2 linked regions of the Homo sapiens genome follow. Each later gene encodes a partner of the first gene's protein in a complex. Each region holds a gene or a part of one and is shown on either strand. Other genes may lie near its edges. A codon is read from its position in the direction of its gene.

Evidence for each region.
Region 2: the proteins of WDFY3 (region 1) and GABARAP are in contact, whole or in part, in a crystal structure (PDB 3WIM), measured with the Homo sapiens proteins. Residues at the interface, in NP_055806.2 of Homo sapiens: Glu3342, Lys3343, Asp3344, Gly3345, Phe3346, Ile3347, Phe3348, Val3349, Asn3350, Tyr3351, Ser3352; in NP_009209.1 of Homo sapiens: Glu17 (codon at 4,854), Ile21 (codon at 4,866), Lys24 (codon at 4,875), Tyr25 (codon at 4,878), Arg28 (codon at 4,887), Pro30 (codon at 4,893), Lys46 (codon at 5,502), Lys48 (codon at 5,508), Tyr49 (codon at 5,511), Leu50 (codon at 5,514), Val51 (codon at 5,517), Pro52 (codon at 5,520), Asp54 (codon at 5,526), Leu55 (codon at 5,529), Leu63 (codon at 5,693), Lys66 (codon at 5,702), Arg67 (codon at 5,705), Phe104 (codon at 6,238).

What each region holds. Positions count from the first base shown.
Region 1 is NC_000004.12:84,669,691-84,677,065, forward strand, and holds part of WDFY3 (WD repeat and FYVE domain-containing protein 3), read right to left. Parts: intron 3,302-7,375; coding exon 3,178-3,301; 3' UTR 1-3,177. UniProt on the Homo sapiens protein: Required for selective macroautophagy (aggrephagy). Acts as an adapter protein by linking specific proteins destined for degradation to the core autophagic machinery members, such as the ATG5-ATG12-ATG16L E3-like ligase, SQSTM1 and LC3.
Region 2 is NC_000017.11:7,239,445-7,247,135, reverse strand, and holds GABARAP (gamma-aminobutyric acid receptor-associated protein), read left to right. Parts: upstream 1-4,686; 5' UTR 4,687-4,805; coding exon 4,806-4,895; intron 4,896-5,456; coding exon 5,457-5,535; intron 5,536-5,675; coding exon 5,676-5,794; intron 5,795-6,216; coding exon 6,217-6,282; 3' UTR 6,283-7,128; downstream 7,129-7,691. Other genes in the region: CTDNEP1 (CTD nuclear envelope phosphatase 1), read left to right, coding at 1-72, 274-345, 766-882, 999-1,110, 2,501-2,585, 2,891-2,951; PHF23 (PHD finger protein 23), read left to right, coding at 7,505-7,550. UniProt on the Homo sapiens protein: Ubiquitin-like modifier that plays a role in intracellular transport of GABA(A) receptors and its interaction with the cytoskeleton.

The DNA.
Region 1 (7,375 bases):
GACTGCACACTAGATAGTAATTCTTCAGGTCTTTTACATAACCACCAAGAAACAGATATTGGTTTCTGCAATATAGTATAAAAGTCCACAATCAATCCAGTCTTAGCCAGTATCTTCAATTTACTTCTGTTGCTGTACAAATAATTGGCCATTACTAGGGCTTACAAGTTAATAACAGGACAAAAAATATACATTGCACTGACACAAAAAGTCAGCTGTGTTAAGAGTCATGCAACAAGTAACCAAACTTGCTGAAATTAAAAATACTTTCTAAAAACAGTTTTAACGGCATAAATATTTTATACACAGTTCATTTACCAAAACAAAATGTATTTAAATGATACAAAGCAAAAATAAGTTTCTACCAACTTTATACATAAGAAAGTGCAAAATAACTTATCTAGAGTGTTTTGCTATTATCCAGACGGATGGCTGCTATGGGCAGCTATTCTCTTCTTCAAAAGCATGACATTAGAGTTGCACACTACATAGAAATGTTAGAATACATGGATGAACAAATGAACAGGTGGATGGATGAATGAACAAACTACAAAGATCAGGCAGGAGCCCTATGAGGTACTCTCAGAAAAAGAATGCAGACCATACTAAGGTAGATGTACATGTTGACAATAGATGTTGGTAAATAAATTTACATGGAACACAGAAAGATATCCAGAGAAATAATTAGTTTATGTATGTGAGTGTACTTGTATGTGTGAGTGATTCTGTTGATTTCTGCATTAGAGGCAAAAAGAAAAGAAACCCGATTGAACAAAACAGTTGCCCACAGCACCAGCTGCCAGAGGAAATACTACCATGAGGGTTTTGGTTTCCACCTTCTAGTTATGGAAGTTCTGTTAGAAAGTTAGTAATGGAAGTTGTGTCGGAAAGTTTAAAAGTGTTCATCCCATATAGTTTCCTATTACAAAGAGGAATAACCTTTAAGTAACTACACACACACATTCATATATTCAAGTCTTTAAAGAACACCTCTGCCACTGGGTATGGGGTAAACATGATTCATGGACAAAAGGAGGACGCTTCTTTTAAAAAGTGTAGAATAACACTGCTACAAATCATCTAGAGGGCCAGACAGGGGCAAGGCCCACAGTTACATAATAGCACAATTTCTGCAACTGTTGAACATCAGCATTATTTATTAGAATTGAAGATGGTGATGGGGGAGGGAGAGTGTGGGGGGAGTAAGACACAGAAAGGAAAACAGAACACAACTTTTCTTTAAATTAAAGTATTAATGCCGATAATCCTTTTATTAACAAGTATATTTGAACTTTTAGAAATGGAAGTGTTTTAATCAATTTTGATATGTAATCATAAATAGACTGTAGGCTCAAACCCAGGTAAATAAAGATTTAAATTTAGTAAGCGTAAGGCACTAAAGCAGCCTTTCTATTTTCTCTTGGAGACCTAGTTATCATATCAGGAAGAACAAATTTGTTCTTAAGCTGGTTTCAGCCCATCAGGTACAAGATCACCATTGTACCAAATGCCTATTTTTGAATGCATGTGCATATATGTGCATTTTAGTGCATAAGTGTGCCTCTCACCAGGGCCTAAAGATGGAAAATTGGAAAAGCCAAAGCCGCTGTCCTTTGCATGATGCCTCTGTGAGGGTGTGAAGGCCTTTCCTTTCGCACCTGTGAAGGTGTGAAGGCCTATCTTGGGCCATTAATGATTCTATATTTTTCAAATCACAGGGCTTTTAGAATTGTTCATAATGTTATCACTAAGTTTCTGAAAATGTTAAAATCTAGATTAATTGTTTCATTTTTAATATATATTATATATATATATATATGTACATAACACACATTTAAAAAAATCCCACCACCAAGCCTTTTCTCTGTAAACTAATCTCTTAGCCCCTTCCAGCTTTAATCCCCCTGGATTTGTGTGTTCTGTATCCAACTAGTAGAACAAATTAAATAACTAAATATTAAAATACTGTAATTATATTCATAGCAAAAACAAAAAAATAGACATTGATACAGTATAAATCTCACTGTTTTCAGGTAGATGACATTAAATGGTAAAGGTTAATTTTAAGCAGTTCTGACATGATTCAGTTTTACAACAAAGTTTATATGTTAATTCTGTACACTTCTTTCTTTCCTTTTTTTACCCCTTGTTTGAAAATAAGCTATAGTAGAACATTAGTGTCACCAAAGACACATACTTATTATGTTCTATGCAAGATAAGCTAATTTTGGGTTACATGCAAATATATTTCCATTAGTTGAGACAGGGCTGTTTCCTGCACTACACTGGTCATCTGACCACCTTTCTGCAATGCTAAGAAGGTATTCTTTGACCAAACAGCAGTCCACATACAAGTTTAAAAGGGGCCCTGTTTATGTAGGAACAACACTGAGGTGGTGCGTAGCCAGGTACAAGACGCCCAAATATTTCCAGTTTATCTTACGGCTGGACTCCTATTCTCCCACACTGTTTCCTAAAGAAGGTCCACATTATTTTGGTTACTAGCCTAGTTTAAGTGGAGATACTGTGGGCAACTTGAAAGAAATGACATCAGGCACACAGGCTGAGCTTGAAAGGAAAAAAAGACCACAGATAATGTCTTTGGGGATTTAAAAAAACATATTTATAATTAATTGGTAAGTGAGGGATGTCAGACAAACCATAAGTAGTTCATTGAGTTAGTGGTTTAGTTTGAAGTTTCATGTTACAGGCAGTTAAGTCCTTATTTAGAAAAAAGGCCTTTTATATCTATTTACAATATACATAGTTACTTGCAAAGAAGTCAGATTTACAACCATTTTCTAAAAGCCTTTTTTGTTGTTGGTTTTTCCAAATAAGGATGAGTAGCTCTATAAAAATGAGATGCAAGAAAAGAGAGTTAATAAGTGAGGATTTTTCTCTTGGAGACAGCTACTGTCATCAGGGAGAACTGGAGGTCGAAAGTGTTGCTCCTAGGAACCACCTCATATTCTTCTTGTGCTGTTCACCTGAATCGCGTCTGCCCCATTCCTGTACTCTACACCCGTTTTATTCAATGATCCCTTTGAATTTTAACACTTCAAACACGTGGTATGAAGAGATGTGTAAACGGAGACTGTTTTCAATGCCTTCCAAGCTGGGACAGGAGAATCGGGAAGGGGTCTACAGACCATGGTCTCCACTCAGCTTGTTGAATCTTCAACAATTTCGAGGCCCATCTTCTGAACCTCTCTCATGCTGTAAGTTATAATAACAGTTCTGACAAACACGCACCGGGGATGAGATTTTCAAGCGTTTGATTTCAGATTGAAAGCGACTGCACCTAAAGGAAAGGAAAAGTCAATTAATTATAGGTCTTCTCCATGCTTGATCATGGGCACCGGAAACATTAATAATCGAATGGAAAGCTTGCAGTAAAATGCCAAAGGCCATACTGGTTTGTGTTGTGTGGCTGAACAAGGACTAAAAGGAAAGCTGTATTATTTGTTTCAGTCTATGAAGAAAAGCAGTATTAAACCAGGGAAGCTATTTCTTTGACTGACAAGAATTAAAAAAACGAAAACAAAAAAACAGAGTTAAGATTTTCCTATACAATGAGGCCAAGGTGTCTGAACAGTGATGTAAGGCCATTCTACCTGTGTAGACTAATTCTCATGGCCTATAAGCTTGGGAGGTATGTCAATGTCTTTACCTGGAGCTTGACATATTTCTCTTGGAAATCAGAAAAACTCACTAGCGGAAATTAGAAGACTCACTAATGAGTATCTATTTTCAAGAGAATTACTAATGACTCATTAGTGAGTCTTCTAATTTCCAAAAGAAATATGAGTTTGATCACTATCAAGTTCCATTGTGCTTTTAAACATTTTGATTGATCCACTCTTTAATCATTTCTTAAACAGTTAGACTGGCTTTCCTTTTCCAGTCCCAACACCCTCATTTCCTATTTATCTTGCTAGAACTGTTTGAAGGAGACTATTCTTAAGAGATGTTCAAATTCTTTAAGAAGTATTCAGAGTTCCTATTCCTGGAATAAAGCCAGGTGTGACTCAGGATGTGGTATTAAATCACTTTAGGCTTGGATTTTCAGAAGATTGAAATGGAAATGAAAAAAAAAATTTTTTTTTGGTAGGGATGGGGTCTCATTACATTGTCCAGGCTGTCCTCAAACTCCTGGCCTCAAGTGATCTTCCTGCCTTGACCTCCCAAAGTGCTGAGACTACAGACGTGAGCCACTGTGCCTGGCCTTGAAATGGAGATTTATGTTTAGTCCATTAATCTACCAGTAAAAATGTCCAGAGAGTAAATTAAGTACTATAACCTTATGGGTTTAAAGGACTGTCACTGGACCTCTCAGATCCCTCAAGAGTGTCAACAGCTCTCAGCCATAGAGACCACAGGCTGTGTGTTCTGGAAAGCACTTCCTTCTGTGCCTGCTTCATCAGAACTTATCACTGTTTGGTCAGTTTCCAATAAAGCTTCCATCCAACATTTAATAGCAATGGATAATTTAAAGAATTACCTATATTTAAACAATATTTTGAAAATTAAACACTACAAAGAACAGATGTGTGCCAGCATACATACGGGAGTGCTAGTACAAATCACTAGATTAATATGATGGGTGTGGAGGCTGAAAACTGTAATCCCAGCACTTTAGGAGGCTGAGGCGGGGGTACTGCTTGAGCCCGCGGCTGTGAGACCAGCCTGGGGAACATAGTGAGACTCTATCTCTACAAAAAATACAAAAATTAGCCAGGTGTGGTGGCTCTTGCCTATAGTCTCAGCTACTTGGAAGGCTGAGGTGGGAGGACTGCTTGAGCCTGGGAGATCAAAGCTGCACTGAGCTGTGATCGTGCCACTGTACTCCAGCCTGGGTGATAGAGGAAGACCCCATCTCAAGAAATATATATATATAGGCTGGGTGCGGAGGCTCATGACTGTAATCCCAGCACTTTGGGAGGCCAAGGTGGGCAGACCACAAGGTCAGGAGTTCGAGACGAGCCTGGCCAATATGGTGAAACCCCGTCTCTACTAAGAATACAAAAATTAGCCAGGCGTGGTGGTGCACGCCTGTAGTCCCAGCTACTCAGGAAGCTGAGGTAGAAGAATCGCTTGAACCCAGGAGGCGGAGGCTGCAGTGAGCCGAGATCACGCCACTGCACTCCAGCCTGGGTGACAGAGTGAGACTCCGTCTCAAAAAAAATAAAAATAAAAATAAAAGATATATATATATATGTCTAGCGGCTCTGTGCTTTGAAAGGCCTGCTCTATAAAACCCATTATGGGTTTTTAAATTTATTATCTATTTTTTTGAGATGGAGTCTTGCTCTGTTGCTCAGGCTGGATGGAGTGCAGTGGCGTGATCTCGGGTCACTGCAACCTCTGTCTGCTGGGTTCAAGTGATTCTCTCGCCTCAACCTCCTGAGTAGCTCACCACCACACCTGGCTAATTTTTGTATTTTTAGTACAGACAGGGTTTTGCCATGTTGGCCAGGCTGGTCTCGAACTCCTGACCTCAGGTGATCAGCCCACCTCAGCCTCCCAAAGTGCTGGCATTACAGGCATGAGCCACTGTGCCCGGTCCCATTATAGGTTTTATAGAGCAGGCCTTTCAAAGCACAGAGCCACTAGACAGAATCCTCTGCCAGCCTCACAGAAATTCCCACAGGAAATGGCTGGCTGCAACATTTTGGGTCCCTCATCTTGAACCAGACTGCCCAGCAGAAAAGGTTTAAGGAATCAAATGATGGAACACCTGTTTTGCCAGACTCTGAACTTGGTGCTTTACAACACTCATATATGTGATCTCATTTAATTCTCTCAATAGCTCTAAGAGGACTGGTCTTCTTACCCACATTTACAGATAAAGAAACCAAAGCTCAGAGAGGCTCGGTAACTTGCTGGCATTATGGCAACAGAAAGTAGCACAGTGAGCATTTGGTCAGTGTAAACCCAAAGACTATGCCCATACCAGTAAGCCAATGCTGCCTATAAAACCTCAGGAATGGACTCATAATTACACAAGTTGAGAATAATATGCTTTCTATGAAAGCATCTCTGGAGTAAGGCAATATAAGCCTTAAAGTGTACTGTCCATGGAATCCTTTCTGTTGTCTGGCAGAAAAAGTAACGACTGTGGATGTGTATCTGGGACCCAGGTGTAGGACAGAGATATCAACCAAATCTATAGCCATGGGACCACTGACCTTTCATATGGGGGAAAAATAGATCCTCGCCTCATGTTATACCCCAAAATAAATTACAAATGAATTAAAGACCTAAATGTGAAAAATAAAACTTTGAAACCTTTAAAAGAAAATAAACAAGATTATCTTTGTGATCCTAGGACAGAGAAAGAATTCTTAAGGCACAAAAAAGCAAAAATCATAGAGTAATACATGTGACTACAACCAGTTTAAAAACTTGTAGATGACAGAAAAAACATATACAAAGTTGAAACACAAGCCACAGACTGGCAGAACGTATCTGCAAGATATATAAAAAACAAAGGTGTACAGCACAGAATATATAAAAGAACTCCTCAAGGAAAAAAAAAGGGCAAAGTACCCAAAAGGAAACCCAAATAGCCAACAAACATGAAAAGATGTTGTCTCACTAGCATTGCAAGTTAAAACAACAAAGCACTATTTTTTAGCTATCAGATTGGCAAAAGTGGAAAAAGTCTGGCAGTACCAAGCATGACTAAGAATTTGGAGAACCTTCATGGCCTGTTGGAGGTAGTGGAGGTAGTATTAACTAGCACTACTGTTTTGAAGAGTAATTTGGCAATATCTAATTAAGATCAAGAATAAGTCTGTGTTCTATCAATTTCATTCCATCTCTAGAGGAATTCTAGCTTGTGTATTAGAAGGGCATTTATAGGGATGTGCATTGTAGCATTATTTATAGTACTGATAAAAATAGAAAAAAAAAAACCCTGAGAGGGCATCAAAAGGGAAATAATGATGATAAATTCATATAATTAAAATAACCGACAGTAGTTAAAATGAATATATTACAATAAGATATCTATATAAATGGATTTCAAAAACAATGTTGAGTAAGAAAGTTACAGAAGGGCAAAAACAGTATAGTACGTAAAGCTGAAAAGTAAAGCTGAGAACACCAAAATAGTATGATGTAATGTTTACAGAGGCAACACATGTTCCTGAAAGCATAAAAACATGGAGAATGGGTGTGATTGGTGAAAGGTGCAAAGAGGATACTTACAATGTATCTATAGTGTTTATAGAATCATTTCACATACAGGTCTCTAAATTAAATACGATGAAATATTAGCATATGTGCATTCTGTGTCATGGATGACAAGGTGTTTGTGACTTGTATGACAGAAAAATTTCCTAATTGTAGTAATAAAGAAGAACAGAAAAAG
Region 2 (7,691 bases), on another chromosome or scaffold:
ATTCACTCCCACCATGATGGGGTCCTGAGGCCCACAGTCCGGCCTGGTACGCCTCCTGACTTCATCCTCAAGGTGTGTGGTGGTGGGGAGTGATGAAATGGTTCCATCTGTTCCTCTGCCCAAACCTGGACTCCCTTTCCCAGTCCCAGAGCATCTGTCTCCATCCGCTGGCACCAGTGTCAGCCTGGAGGAGGGAAGCAGATGGGTGGGGCGTTTTCTAGGCCTGGGTTGTGGTGGTCATGACATCCCCCAGCCCATCTTGTTCCTCTGTAGGTGGTAATAGACAAACATCCTGTCCGGTTTTTTGTACATAAGAGGCCCCATGTGGATTTCTTCCTGGAAGTGGTGAGTTTTGGAGAGCTAAAGGGAGCTCTGTAATGAAGGAATGGTTTTAGGGCTCTGGGAATTGGGAGGATTTGGAGGAAGGGGTGAGGAGAAACGGGTTAGAGCAGTTTTCTAGAGGGGAGGCTGTGTAATGGTAGGGGAGTGGCTTTCAGTACTTGGGGTTCATTTGTTGTGCTGATGTAATTCTTTTCCGCTGGCATCTTTCTCTTTTGTTCTTGCATTTCTGAATCATAAGAGTGTAGGATGCCTAACACTGAGTTTGGAGGTTTGGGCTGGGGGTTCAGAATTTCGTGTCCTCAGAGACATTTGATGTTGATGGAAGGCCTGAAGGACTATGCCATTGCCTTTCTGAAAGATAACTGTATGTCTAAAGGAATCATCACCTTGTATGGCATCGCCCTCTCCCCCAATCTATTTCAGGTGAGCCAGTGGTACGAGCTGGTGGTGTTTACAGCAAGCATGGAGATCTATGGCTCTGCTGTGGCAGATAAACTGGACAATAGCAGAAGCATTCTTAAGAGGAGATATTACAGACAGGTAAGCTAGAATCCCAGTCTAAGAGTGTGGCTTGGGAGGGAGGCCACCAGGGAGGGATCTGGGTTTGAGGAGAGTATCCTGGAGAGAGGCCTGCTACATGATCCCCTGCCTTCCAGCACTGCACTTTGGAGTTGGGCAGCTACATCAAGGACCTCTCTGTGGTCCACAGTGACCTCTCCAGCATTGTGATCCTGGATAACTCCCCAGGGGCTTACAGGAGCCATCCAGGTACGGGGGAAGGTGGTGAGTCTGGCAGGACCAGAACATGGTTCTGAGAAGGTATTTTTGCAGGAGACCTGGGCTTTGGTCCTTGAGAGCTGGGATTCCCTAGATTATCCCTAGTTTGCTGTAAGTCGAAATGCAAGTTATTTTTGTGTTTCAAATGAGATACCATATATGTCCATTTCATAAGTCGGATTTCTTATATCATTTTTTTCATTTTTAAAATTTATTTTTGGCTGGGCACGGTGGATTATGCTTGTAATCCCAGCACTTTGGGAGGCCGAGGCAGGCGGATCACGAGGTCAGAAGTTCGAGACCAGCCTAACAAACATGGTGAAACCCCATCTCTACTAAAAATAGAAAAAACTAGCCAGGCGTGGTGGCGCACGCCTGTAATCCCAGCAACTCGGGAGGCTGAGGCAGGAGAATCGCTTGAACCCGGGAGGCGGAGGTTGCAGTGAGCCGAGATTGCACCATTGCACTCCAGCCTGGGTGACAGAGCGAGACGCCGTCTCAAAAAAAATAAATAATAAATAAATAAAAATAAAATTTATTTTTATTTATTTTTTGAGATAGGGTCTCACTCTGTTCCCAGGCTGGAGTGCAGTGTCATGATCATAGCTCACTGCAGCCTCGATCTCCCAGGCTCAAGTGATCCTTCTGCCTCAGCCTCTCAGTAGTTGGGACTACAGGCGTGCACCACCATGCCCAGCTAATTTTTTTATTTTTTATTTTTTTTTGAGACAGAGTCTCGCACTGTCACCCAGGCTGGAATGCAGTGGCGTGATCTCGGCTTACTGCAACCTCCGACTTCCAGGTTCAAGCAATTCTCCTGCCTCAGCCTCCCAAGTAGCTGGGATCACAGGCACCTGCCACCACGCGCAGCTAATTTTTTGTATTTTTAGTAGCGACGGAGTTTCACCACGTTGGCCAGGCTGGTCTTGAATTCCTGACCTCGTGATTCGTCCGCTTTGGCCTCCCAAAGTGCTGGGATTACAGGCGTAAGCCACTGCCCTTGGCCAATTTTTTGATTTTTAGTAGAGAAGGGATCTCATTATGTTGCCCAGGCTGGACTCAAACTCCTGAGCTCAAGTGATCCTCCCACCTCGGCCTCTCAAAGTGTTGGGATAACAGGTGTGAGCCACTGCGCCTGGCCAAGTGTGTTTCAAGTGAGGCACAATGGCAGTAAGCTTGACTAGAAGCATCAATAGGTATGAGATCTGGTGATTAAAACTTAGTTTCGGAGCATAAACCAGGAAAGTTTTACTTAGGTTGTTGACTTCCGGTAGTGGGAGGCATATATTTTTAACAATAATTCCTCCTTCCCTCCAAGAAGAGAAAAACACCGTCTCTCTTGAATTCTGTTTCTTCTCATCTGCATTTTCACCCACCCTAGACAATGCCATCCCCATCAAATCCTGGTTCAGTGACCCCAGCGACACAGCCCTTCTCAACCTGCTCCCAATGCTGGATGCCCTCAGGTAAGGGAAGTGGGCTCTGGACACTTGGATATCTCAAGAAAGGAGGAGGTGGGGGATCCTCAGAGGGAATAAAAAAGGTTTGTCCTGTTTTAACTCTGTTCCCTTAAGAATTTAACATTTGGACCCAGGTCGTCTTACTTCAAAGCTCATCACTTTAGCTAGTAGGCTGTGGGCAAATTGAACCTATCTAATCATGAATATGGTGATAATTTAGGTCCCACATCTCCAGTGATGCTGCCTTACAAGAGTGTTGTGAGGGTATGAACTATAAGGTACTCTACCAATGCAAGTTATTGTCACCCCAGGTTCACCGCTGATGTTCGTTCCGTGCTGAGCCGAAACCTTCACCAACATCGGCTCTGGTGACAGCTGCTCCCCCTCCACCTGAGTTGGGGTGGGGGGGAAAGGGAGGGCGAGCCCTTGGGATGCCGTCTGATGCCCTGTCCAATGTGAGGACTGCCTGGGCAGGGTCTGCCCCTCCCACCCCTCTCTGCCCTGGGAGCCCTACACTCCACTTGGAGTCTGGATGGACACATGGGCCAGGGGCTCTGAAGCAGCCTCACTCTTAACTTCGTGTTCACACTCCATGGAAACCCCAGACTGGGACACAGGCGGAAGCCTAGGAGAGCCGAATCAGTGTTTGTGAAGAGGCAGGACTGGCCAGAGTGACAGACATACGGTGATCCAGGAGGCTCAAAGAGAAGCCAAGTCAGCTTTGTTGTGATTTGATTTTTTTTAAAAAACTCTTGTACAAAACTGATCTAATTCTTCACTCCTGCTCCAAGGGCTGGGCTGTGGGTGGGATACTGGGATTTTGGGCCACTGGATTTTCCCTAAATTTGTCCCCCCTTTACTCTCCCTCTATTTTTCTCTCCTTAGACTCCCTCAGACCTGTAACCAGCTTTGTGTCTTTTTTCCTTTTCTCTCTTTTAAACCATGCATTATAACTTTGAAACCAAAGCGGCCTTAGGTCCTTCTCTGGGGTTTTGGGAAGTGAAGAGAGGGGACTTTGTTCACATGCACCCTGTCCCACAGGCAGAGGGGGAAGAGACTGCTGTTGGACTCAAGGGGCAGGGGGAAAGGTGGCGTTGAGTATAGGGATAGAATAATGCGGACACCAGATGCCTGGGATACAATAATGCTGACACCAGATGCTTTGGCGGGAAGGGCCGAGTGACAGGATGGGCGCGCTGGTGGGGAGTGGAAGGACACCTTCGGAGAAGCAGGCTATGGAAGCACGAAAGGAGAAACCGGCTATGGAAGCACGAAAGGAGAAACCTGGACGGCCAAAGGGCGTAGAGCTGGAGAAACCGGGCTTCGTCCGGGGCACTGACGTGGACAGGTTAAGCGGGCGCTGCCCCCAGGTGGCTGGCGCCCCGACCTCCGCTGTCCGGGAAGGCGTCGGTCCCCCTCCCAGCTGTCGCCCAGCCGGCCCCGCCTCCCCGGCGCCCTCCCAAGCCGGCCCTACTTCGCGCACCCGCCACGTGACGCTCCGCCCTCTTTGAGATCACATGATTTAACTCAAGTCCCGCAGTGTTCCTCCGCGCTGGCGTAGTCCCTACCTTTCCAACCTCCTCTCCAGTCCCTATTGGTCTACTCATTTTGGCACTTAAGCGTTCTGTAGATCTCTCCAAACATCTGTTTTCTTTTTGACTTCTTATTTCTGGAGATCATCTCCGCCACTTGGGTACTACTTTGTTTTGGTGTCAACGGCCGCCTTCAGCGTAGCAACACGGTTCGTGAATAGCTAACCTTGTAATTGTCCCTGCTGTTCCTCTACGTTGTTAACGAAAGGAACTTGGAGAACCAAGTCTCGTATGATGATTACCATCTTTTACTCCTCTTCAGCCCCAGCTTCCTTGAGGGGACGGTTGGGGAATAGGTTTAGAGTAATTTTCGATGAGCAAAAGCCAACCGTCTTTGCTACGTCGCCTGCGTAGCCCACAAATTGATTCCAAAGCGATTACGCTAATGGCGTGAGGGGGCCGGTCAGTTGGTGGTGCTACGCTAGCAGCGTTAGCGCCGCTGAGGTAGTGGCGTATCTTAGCGGGGGGGGCAGTCCCCGATAGTCGGGGGCGGGGTTGGTGAATAGGGAAGTGGCGCAAATTCGTGGATCGCTCCGCTGAATCCGCCCGCGCGTCGCCGCCGTCGTCGCCGCCCCCCGTCCCGGCCCCCCTGGGTTCCCTCAGCCCAGCCCTGTCCAGCCCGGTTCCCGGGAGGATGAAGTTCGTGTACAAAGAAGAGCATCCGTTCGAGAAGCGCCGCTCTGAGGGCGAGAAGATCCGAAAGAAATACCCGGACCGGGTGCCGGTGAGGACAGTAGCCAGGGCCGAGGGCGCGGGACGCTTACGCTGACGCCACAGCCTGGCCTTGGATCGGGACAGGCAGCGCAGGGATCAGGCTGCTGGCTGTGGTGGGGTTGGCAGCGAGCCTGAAACTGCTGTCCTTGGGACCCAGGATGAAAGGAGTGGGGTAGTGGTGGATGTGGGGTTGAGAGGGATGTGGACAGGAGAGAGAAACCTTAGCATTTGAGGCCTTAGAGAGTTTGACAGCCTGAGCTTCAAATGGTCATCCCCCCAGCTAGCTAAGGTTGCGAGATTGAATCACTAGTCGACCCAAACAAGTCACCTCCGTCTGATTAAGATAGTTGTTTATGGTGACGCCCTATTGGGGGATGGATCCTGGATATTTAAATGAGCTCCAGTCAGTGAGGTCAGGATCTCTGGGACTCAGTGCTGCACCGCGTGTACAAAGACAAAGAGATGAATCTGGGGTAGATTTAGGTGCTAGGAATATTGTTTCTTGAGTTCTTGACAGGTGCAGCTTCGGGGCTGCATTCCTTCTGTCTCCTAATTTTCATCTCTTTATCAGGTGATAGTAGAAAAGGCTCCCAAAGCTCGGATAGGAGACCTGGACAAAAAGAAATACCTGGTGCCTTCTGATCTCACAGGTGGGAACCTGATCCAAGACTCAGGCTTGCTTCCTGTGGGTGGGAGTGCAGTCTCTGCGGGAGGAGGCTCCACCTAGCAGCTGTTCTTTTGAGGGCATTTTTGACCTCTGTGACTTTCTTGCATCTTGTATCTTTTGCAGTTGGTCAGTTCTACTTCTTGATCCGGAAGCGAATTCATCTCCGAGCTGAGGATGCCTTGTTTTTCTTTGTCAACAATGTCATTCCACCCACCAGTGCCACAATGGGTCAGCTGTACCAGGTATGGTGACTGGGAAGTGGTGGAGGCTTTGGAGAGGAATCTTGGAAGAGCGTGAGGGGAAGAAAGTGTTGTTACATCAGTAGTTTTGGACTAGCTTCCTGGCTTGCCTTAAAGTTTCATAATAGCCGTGGGTTGGGGGTTTGGACAGAACAGTAGGAGTAGAGAGAAGGAAAGAGAACAGTGAGCTAGAGAAACTATCTGTTCGGGACTCTTCCCAGTCCCCCTCCCCATTCCAAAGCAGCAGAAAACAGTTTGAGGCCTTTTTGCCCAGGACTGCAGAGATTATACTGCTCGTGTGGTAGGCCTTGGAGTCAGTGAAGGAGTCAGGCAATGGTTTGTGGTTCTAGAAGAACGTGTCTGGGTCGTGGTTGGTTTAAGTTACTGGAGCCCAGTTGCTGAACAGTTTTCTGCTTTCATCCCAGGAACACCATGAAGAAGACTTCTTTCTCTACATTGCCTACAGTGACGAAAGTGTCTACGGTCTGTGAAGCTGCTGCCCCTGAGCTGGAGGGGGGTCTCATTCTACAAAGAGAGAGGTGGCCCCCCTTTCTTGACCTCCTCCTCCTTCAAGCTCAAACACCACCTCCCTTATTCAGGACCGGCACTTCTTAATGTTTGTGGCTTTCTCTCCAGCCTCTCTTAGGAGGGGTAATGGTGGAGTTGGCATCTTGTAACTCTCCTTTCTCCTTTCTTCCCCTTTCTCTGCCCGCCTTTCCCATCCTGCTGTAGACTTCTTGATTGTCAGTCTGTGTCACATCCAGTGATTGTTTTGGTTTCTGTTCCCTTTCTGACTGCCCAAGGGGCTCAGAACCCCAGCAATCCCTTCCTTTCACTACCTTCTTTTTTGGGGGTAGTTGGAAGGGACTGAAATTGTGGGGGGAAGGTAGGAGGCACATCAATAAAGAGGAAACCACCAAGCTGAACTGAATTTTGCCTTGTGTTGCTCCCCTCGTCCCGCTGATTTTAAGTCTTTCCAAGGTGTCAGTGGGTTTCAGTGGTGGGGAAAGAAGAGTACTGGGTACAAGCTGGAGGGATAGAAGTATATTTTGGTTTATTCTGTTCATGTTGGGCTTTTCCCTGTCTGCAAAAAGAGGGTGCTTTTGTTGTGATGGAATGGAATACTGAGGATTATTTCTTGAAACTTTAGTTTTATAACACGCATGTGAAACTAAATGTTAAAAATGCTCATGTAAAAAAAAATTTTTTTTTACTGTGGGTTCCTGTGGAGAAAGTTCCGAAGTACCTGCTTTAGGTGAACATCCACATTTGCTAGAACATTCTAACTAAGATATTTTCATGTGTGCAAGCTAGTAAAACGGCTGTTCTCAGTTGCATGTCACTTGGCTAGACTTTTGCCGGTGTGTGGGATCCGGCAGAGTGGAATCAGGGAGGGAGAAGACTGGGAGCGGGAGCCATTATCGCCAGGAATACTTCAACTCCCAGCAATCATTTCTCCGGCAGGCCGGAAGTGGGGCGGTCCTCCTGGGGAGAAAGAAGCTGCAGAACGAGGCAGTATGGTGGCCGAGAGTTCTAATCCCTTCTTCCTCTTCTTTCTTGGTCCCGCCCAGCCTACATCTCCCAGGGGCCTGCGCGCGCACTTCCGCTCTCCCCTCCGGCTCCTGGTCTCCCCGCCGCTCCCCGGGGGAGGGGAGCGGCTTGGTGCGCCTGCGCCAGCCTGTGGCTTTCTGGGAATCAAAGTTCCGGAGGTTCATGCGGTCCCTTTTCCGCTGTTCCCGGACGGACTACAAAACCCTTGGTGCACTGCGCCTCGGCGCCGGCGGGGGGAGGAGGGAGAGAAGAGGAGGGAGGGAGGAGAGAGGAGGTGGAGGAGGAGGAGGAGGGAGCAGGCGGCCGGCGGCGCGGGGGGAGGGGGCCCGGTCCGGGAGTGCGGGAGGCA